Homo sapiens: one gene and its partner. The main gene of each other region encodes a partner of the protein of the gene in region 2 in a complex. Each region holds a gene or a part of one and is shown on either strand. Other genes may lie near its edges. A codon is read from its position in the direction of its gene.

Region 1 (3,751 bases), on a different chromosome or scaffold from region 2:
AGCATTTCTCTTTATATGGCAATATCTCCATTTAACCAATCAGGTCTTAATGAACTACTCTTCTTTTCCTCTAATGAATGGACGCCTTCCTAAAGGTATGGTATACCTCCCAAACTTAGTAAGGAGAGTATACAGAATACCACTTGTGTTCTCAAATGATACAGGATCATTGTTCATGTATGGTGACTTCAGGAGCTTTTTATTTTTTTTTGAAATAGGGTCTCACTCTGTCGCCCAGGCTAGAGGACACTGGCATGATCACAGCTCACTGTAGCCTCAACCTCCCTGGGCTCAGGTGATCCTCCAACCTCAGCCTCCTCAGTAACTGGGACCACAGGCACACACCACTAATTTTTGTATTTTTTTGGTAGATATAGGGTTTCACCATATTGCCCTGGCTGGTCTTGAACTCCAGAGCTCAAGTGATCCGCCTGCCTTGGCCTCCCAAAGGCTGTCAGCCACTGCACCTGGCTGACGTCAGGAGCTATTAAGGTAACTAGGAACTATTGGCACTATAGATCAAATGGTTCCAGATTTGTTATGGCATGTACCCCAAGGCTTTCTTCTATAAGAAGTGTCTTCTTGGCTGAGTGCAATGGCTCACTCCTGTAATCTCAACACTTTGGCAGGGTTAGGTGGGAGGATCGCTTGAGCCCAAGAGTTTGAGGCTACAGTGAGCTATGATCACACTAATGCACTCCAGCCTGGCTGACAGAGTGAGATCCTGTTCAAGCGATTCTCCTGCCTCAGCCTCCTCGGTAGCTGGGATGACAGGTGTGCACCATCACACCCGGCTGATTTTTTATTTTTAGTAGAGACGGGGTTTCACCATGTTGGACAGGCTCGTCTTGAACTCATGACTTCAGGTAATCCAACCACCTCGGCCTCCCAAAGTGCTGGGATTACAGGCGTGAGCCACCGTGCCCGGCCTTTATTTGTATTTTTAGTACAGACAGGGTTTCAATATACTGACCAGCTGGGCTCGAACTCCTGACCCCATGTCATCCGCCCACCTTGGCCTCCCAAAGTGCTGGGATTACAGGTGTGATCCACCGCACCCGGCCTGGGAGTCCCTTCTATATCCCTAAAACAAATTCCTCTTTTCACTTTTGCTAGAATGTACAATTTTCTGTTCTTTATAATGAAAAAAATCCAGAGAAGCCAAGTAAATATAGTATGGAGTAAAAGTGAAAGCAAGGTTGGTCTACAGCTTGGGAAAAATGTATGACACTGGAACCTCATGCTGTTTTACTATCAGGCCCAAATGCTATGCTGTTTCCCCATTCATGTCACCCAGTGGATCAAGGCTACCTCAACCACTGGCCTTCTCTTGTGTGATAACTGAGTTACGTACCTCCAGGAAGTCAAAGAGGAGGGTGGCTGTCACATCTGACAAGGGCTCCATGTTTAAGATCTGTGCCAACCAGCGCCATCCATGATTTAAGCCATGAGGGTGAATCTGGGAGTAGAGAAGCTTGGTTATCATTGATCTCATTTTGTTTAGAAATCTAAACTCCCAGTGTATCATCCAGCCATTACCAAGTGGAAATGAACCCCAGATCATCCAGCCCTAGCACCTGCCACAGGGCAGAAATAACACAAACTAAACAAATTCTGTTTTTCTTTTATTTTTTTGAGACAGGGTCTCACTTTGTTGTCCAGGTTGGAGTGCTATAGTGCGATCATGGATCACTGCAGCCTTCACCTCCTGGGCTCAAGTGATTCTTCCACTTCAGTCTCCCAAGTAGCTGGGACTACAGGCATGCACATGCCACCGTGCTCAGCTAATTTTTTTGTATTTTATTTAGAGACATGGTTTCACCTTGTTGCCCAGGCTGGTCTCAAACTCCTGGAGTCAAATGACCCACCTGTCTCGGCTTCCTAAAGGGCTGGGATTACAGGCATGAATCTACCTCGCCCAGCCTTCTGTATTTAAATGTTTCAGTACATTGGTTCCCACACATTCTTTTTTTTTTTTTTTTTTTTTTTTTGAGGGAGAGTTTTGCTCTTGTTGCCCAGGCTGGAGTGCAATGGCGTGATCTCGGCTCATTGCCACCTCTGCCTCCTGGGTTAAAGCGATTCTCGTGCCTCAGCCTCCCAAGTAGCTGGAATTACAGGTGCCCACCACCATGCCCAGCTAATTTTTGTATTTTTAGTAGAGACGGGGTTTCACCATGTTGGCCAGGCTGGTCTTGAACTCCTGACCTTAGGTGATCCACCCACCTCAGCCTCCCAAAGTGCTGGGATATCAGGCCTGAAGCTACCTCGCCTTCTATTTTTTAATGTTTCAATACATTGGTTCCCACACATTCTTTATAGGCTCCCTTCAATATGCATGTGTCAGCTTCAGTTTCAGGCATTCCATAGGGTAACAATTAGCCTTATTGACATTTTATTTATTATTCTTGGTACCTTTAGCACAGAACCTGGGACACAGCAGGCATACAATAAAAACTTGGATTTAATCAACTTCTATTTTTTCTCTTTAGGTCTCCGTAACTATTAATTTCTCTGTCCTTCTAATCTGTATTCCCTGAGAAATTAATTGGGCTGGCAAGTCAAAGCCCTGAACCCCAGCTGCAGCTTTCTGAGCTTGTTCTGTCCATCTGTGAAGTAAGGTATGTGATCTAGATGGCTTCTAAGGTCTCAACTAGTTCTAAGATGACAATTTCTTGCTCATTCCTCTTGTAAGAAAATCTTCTAACCTTAATGACTGATTTATAACAGACTCTCCTCTGGTAGACTCTGTTACAAAACCAGCTCTTTAAAGTACCAGGTGATCCAAGAAAGTTCCCTAATAATCAACATTCAGTCCTCTACATAATACCCATGAAACTGCCATATAGTTTATCCTTTAACTAGACTGGCTCTCTGAAAGAAGGCCAACATTTCCTGTGGGAGGAATACACATGGACTGTGGTCTAACCTCTCATTATTGACAGTAAGCCTCTTTTACCTACCTCCTGTCGGTTTCCATATGGCCACCGGAGCTGGATGATAGCAGCGTAGAGACGGATCATCCCTGACATGCGTTTTAGAAAGTTGTCTTGCTGCTCCACTTTGGAATCCTTTACTTGGTAACCAAGCATCCTATACGGGAAGAAAAAATTTGGCCGGGTGTGGTGGCTCACGCTTGTAATCCCAGCACTTTGGGAGGCCAAGGTGGGCAGATCACTTGAGGCCAGGAGTTCAAGACTAGCCTGGCCAATGTGGTGAAACCCCATCTCTACTAAAAATACAAAAATTAACTGGGTATGGTGGTGCATGCCTGTTTGTCCCAGCTAATTGGGAGGCTGAGGCATGAGAATTGCTTGAACCTGGGAGGTGGAGGTTGCAGTGAGTCAAGATTGCATCACTGCACTCCAGCCTGGGTAACAGTAAGACTGTGTCTCAAAAAAAAGAAATAAGAAAAAATTCACTGGGACAAGGCCAAAATAAGGGTGACAAATTAGAGATAAATTGCTTTTTTTTGGGAAACAGAGTCTCTGTCACCCAGGCTGGAGTACAGTGGTATGATCAAGGCTCACTGCAAACTTCACCACCCAGGTTCAAGTGATCCTCCCGCCTCAGCCTCCTGAGTAGCTAGGACCACAGGCACATGCCACCATAGCCGGCTAATTTTTTTTTTTGAGATGGAATTTCCATCTTGTCGCCCAGGCTAGAAAGCAATAGCACGATCTCAGGCAATCTCCGCCTCTCGGGTTCAAGCGATTCTTCTGCCTCTGCCTCCCGAGTAGCTGTGATTAAGGCA
Region 2 (3,751 bases):
GGAAGCGGGAGTATCACCTTAGGTCACGAGTTCGAGACCGGTATGGCCAAAATGGCAAAACCCTGTCTCTACTAAAAATACAAAAATTATCAAGGGCATGGTGGCGGGCACCCGTAATCCCAGCTACTCGGGAGACTGAGGCATAAGAATCGCTTGAGCCTGGGAGGCGGAGGTCGCAGTGAGCCGCCTGACTGAGAGAGCAAGACTCCGTCTCAAAATAAAATAAAAAAATAAAGGTCAGATGAATAGCCCTAAAGGAGGGGAAGGAAGGGAGACAGCACCGAATTATTAACCCGATCTTTAAAAATCTTGTGTTGTTCTAAGGTTTCATGTCTAATCTCTCCTTTCCTTGAAGATAAAAAGCTTTGACAATGATCTAGGCCCAGGGACTAGATCAACGTGGCCCCCGCATCTCCTTTCCTCACCTCCCGGATAGCCCTTAACTGGGCGTCCCACATTCCCAATTTCACCCCAAATTTATGAGCAGGTGCATTTTTGCGGTATGGCTCTATAGGTTTTATTAGATTTTCTTTTTTTCTTTTCTTTCTTTCTTTTTTTTTTTTTGATAGTCTCGCTCTGTCGCCCAGGCTGGAGTGCAGTGGCACGATCTCGGCCCACTGCAACCTCCACCTCCCGGGTTCAAGCGATTCTCCTGTCTCAGCCTCATGAGTAGCTGGGATTACAGGCGCGCGCCACCACGCCCGGCTATTTTTTTTTTTTTTTTTTTTTTTGGTATTTTTAGTAAAGACGGTGTTTCACTATGTTGGTCAGGCTGGTCTCAAACTCCTGACCTCGTGATCCGCCCGCCTCGGCCTCCCAAAGTGCTGGGATTACAGGCGTGAGCCACCGCCCGGCCGGTTTTATTAGATTTTTTCAAAGAAGTCCACGACTTCTCCAAAATGAAGTCCTGATTCTGACCCAAGCTGCTAGCCTCACCCTCGAAAAAACAACTTAGTAAAAATTATATTCAATTCCGGCATTTACCTACAAGGTAGTTTCGATAGGTACTTCCGATTTAAAAACTCAGTTTCGCACAAGCATCCAGGCCCAAACCCAGGTCCTCAGAAGCTCAATAAAAACGGACCACATGAATAATATGTAGATAAAACCCTCGGTTTAAAAACGTTGTGCAGGGCCCAGTAGGGCCGGCAAGGCCGCGACGCGGGCACGTTGGGGTCACCAGCAGCGGGAAACACGCGGGACGCCCGGTCCCCGCCGGCGGACCCTTCCCGGCTCGGTTACCGCGGAGGATTCAGAGGAGAGTCACCTGAAGGCTGCTGCTGCGGTTGCTGCCGTCCTCCTCCTGCACCCCTAGCACCGGGATGTTCGTTCCAGCACCGATCTCCAAAGCGGCACCGGCCTTGAAGGAAGAATTGACAAATGGCCATTGCGACGGCGTCGCTGACGGAGGGCGTCTTCAGTCTGCACCGTTCGATGCCTGTTACTGGGCAGAGAGCCCTAAGGCAACCTCGGCGCCCGGCCGGGCTACTGTGACGTCATCTTCTCGCGCCTGGGAAGGCCTTTTTCCGCCTCTCACCCGGCAGTGCCATGAGACGCATGGACTTGAGCCAATAGGACTTGAGAAGAGCGGACCGCTCTGACGCTTTGAGTGTGTCCTGGGAAGGAGGGATGCTTGAACGGTTACGTGAAGACCGGAGGCGCGTTTGACCCCGGTGCAGGGCCTCGGACTACAGGAAGGCTGGAGGTCCAAAATGAGAGGAAAGCGGAGCAAGCAAACGCAGAACTTCAGCAAGGCCCTCAGAGGAGAATTAGCTATGATTTGAGAGACTGAGTCGTTCTTGCTGAGACGGTAAAACTTAGCTTGGGCTGAGAAAGTAACAAACTGCCTAGCCTTTCATCTGGATGGATAACAGAGTCAAATAAAGCCAGACGACGTTAAGAGGAAACAATGTTTCTTTTAGGACATGCTGCAACGGAAAAGTATTACCACTTAAGTACATTCTTACTACACACTGAGAAACCTTGTTATTTCTTCTTTTTTTTTTTTTTTTTTGAGACGGAGTCTCGCTCTGTCGCCCAGGCTGGAGTACAGTGGCAGAGCTTGGAGGCAAGCTCTGCCTCCAAGGTTCATGCCGTTCTCGTGCCTCAGCCTCCCGAGTAGCTGGGACTACAGGTGCCCGCCACCACGCCCGGCTAATTTTTTTGTATTTTTAGTAGACACGGTTTCACCGTGTTAGCCAGGATGGTCTCTATTTTCTGACCTCGTGATCCGCCCGCGTCCGCCTCCCAAAGTGCTGCGATTACAGGTGTGAGCCACCGCGTCTGGCCGAAACCTTGTTCTTTCAAGTCCACATAAACGTTGCTATTTGAAATTATATCAGAACGAGTGAAAAGTCCCATCCTTGCCTGGAGGATCTAAGTCTCTTTGACGCAGAGAAGCAGCCTCAATTTCTATCCAGGTGTAGAGCTTCAGATAAACGGTTCTGAAAACATTCTGTATTTTCTTAACTTTGCAGTTTCCAAGGAAACATGCCCTACATTCAATTCTCGTCCAGACCTGATGTTAATGCCTTTACACACAGCTATGCTTTGAGATTTCATTTAAATTTCACCTAAACTTCACTCTCCCCGCCAAAACATACAATAACTACCTTTTATTTTGTACGGTGAGACACACCACAGCTCCTCTGGTGTGCAGTCTTCTTGATTGCAATAAGTCAATAGATCTGACTTTGTTGGATTACAGGTTTGTGCTGGTGGTTTTAGGATTATTGAGCTGGGAGTGAGCCATCATTCTTGCTCATGTAATTTGTTTGGATTTTGAAGACAGCAGAATCTACAGGACGGGAACTACTTGTCCAAACTAGTTTTTTATTTTCTTTAATCAATGCAATTCATTTATTTTGAAACAAATTTATGGAAAAGTTACAAATAACAGTACAAAGAACTTTTTTCCTGAACCATTTGAGACTATGTTGCAGACCTAATGCCCCATGATCCAAATACTTATTGTATATTTTCTACAAACAAACCAGGGCATTCTACATAACCACAACACAGCCAACAAAATTAGGACATTGATACTGATGCACTACTACTCTCTAATCCTTAGACTCCATTTATGTTTTGCCAAATGTCCCAATATTGTCCTTTAGAGGAAAAGGGTTCAGTTCGGAATCATTGTTGCTTAGTCATATTTCTTGTGTCTCCTTCAATTTGGAAGATTTTTTGTTTTTCCTTTTCATGACCTTGACACTATTAAAGACTACAGGCTGCTTATACTGTAGAGGTTCCTTAGTGCAGGTCTGTTTGATGTTTTCTCTTGATTAGATTCAGATTATGCATCTTTGTCAGGATTATCACAGAAGTGATGCTGCGGTTTTCACATTGCAGGTTGTGCACAATTTCAATTTGTCCTGTTACCTGTAATGCTCAATGGATTACTTGCTTAAGGTGGTGTCTGCCAAGCTGCTCTACCATAAAGTTATTCTTTTCCTTTTTGTTATTAATAAGAATTTTGTGGGGAGGTACTTTGAAAGTATATAAAAATCTGATTGTTCATCCAACTTTTAGCTCATTCACTTATTTATTTATATCAGTATGGACTCATGATTTCCAATGTTATTCAATGGGTTATAATCCATTACTATCATTATTTATTTTGATGCTCAGATCATCTCCAATTTGGCCAATGGGACCCCCTTTAAGCTCCTTTACACATTCGAAAAAGGAGAAAAAAAAATTCCCCATGATTACTTGAGCACTTTTTTACTTTCTGGTGCAGAGATGT

The links. The genes of interacting proteins can lie anywhere in the genome.
Region 1: the proteins of NUP42 (region 2) and GLE1 are in contact, whole or in part, in a crystal structure (PDB 6B4I), measured with the Homo sapiens proteins. Residues at the interface, in NP_001357375.1 of Homo sapiens: Asp185, Asn186, Val187, Leu188, Phe189, Gln202, Phe203, Gln204, Ser205, Lys206, Lys207, Phe208, Leu210, Gly211, Lys212, Ile213, Pro214, Leu215, Lys216, Pro217, Pro218, Leu222, Leu223, Asn224, Val225; in NP_001003722.1 of Homo sapiens: Ile385, Ile593 (codon at 1,459), Leu598 (codon at 1,444), Asn599 (codon at 1,441), Trp602 (codon at 1,432), Arg603 (codon at 1,429), Ala606 (codon at 1,420), Gln607 (codon at 1,417), Leu609 (codon at 1,411), Asn610 (codon at 1,408), Gln636, Tyr637, Gln638, Val639, Gln640, Lys643, Met644, Ile646, Leu647, Glu650, Asp651, Tyr652.

Annotation. Positions count from the first base shown.
Region 1 is NC_000009.12:128,535,694-128,539,444, reverse strand, and holds part of GLE1 (mRNA export factor GLE1), read right to left. Parts: intron 3,091-3,751; coding exon 2,961-3,090; intron 2,619-2,960; exon of another isoform or gene 2,490-2,618; intron 1,460-2,489; coding exon 1,355-1,459; intron 1-1,354. UniProt on the Homo sapiens protein: Required for the export of mRNAs containing poly(A) tails from the nucleus into the cytoplasm. May be involved in the terminal step of the mRNA transport through the nuclear pore complex (NPC).
Region 2 is NC_000007.14:23,179,723-23,183,473, reverse strand, and holds the start of NUP42 (nucleoporin NUP42), read right to left. Parts: upstream 1,427-3,751; 5' UTR 1,389-1,426; coding exon 1,268-1,388; intron 1-1,267.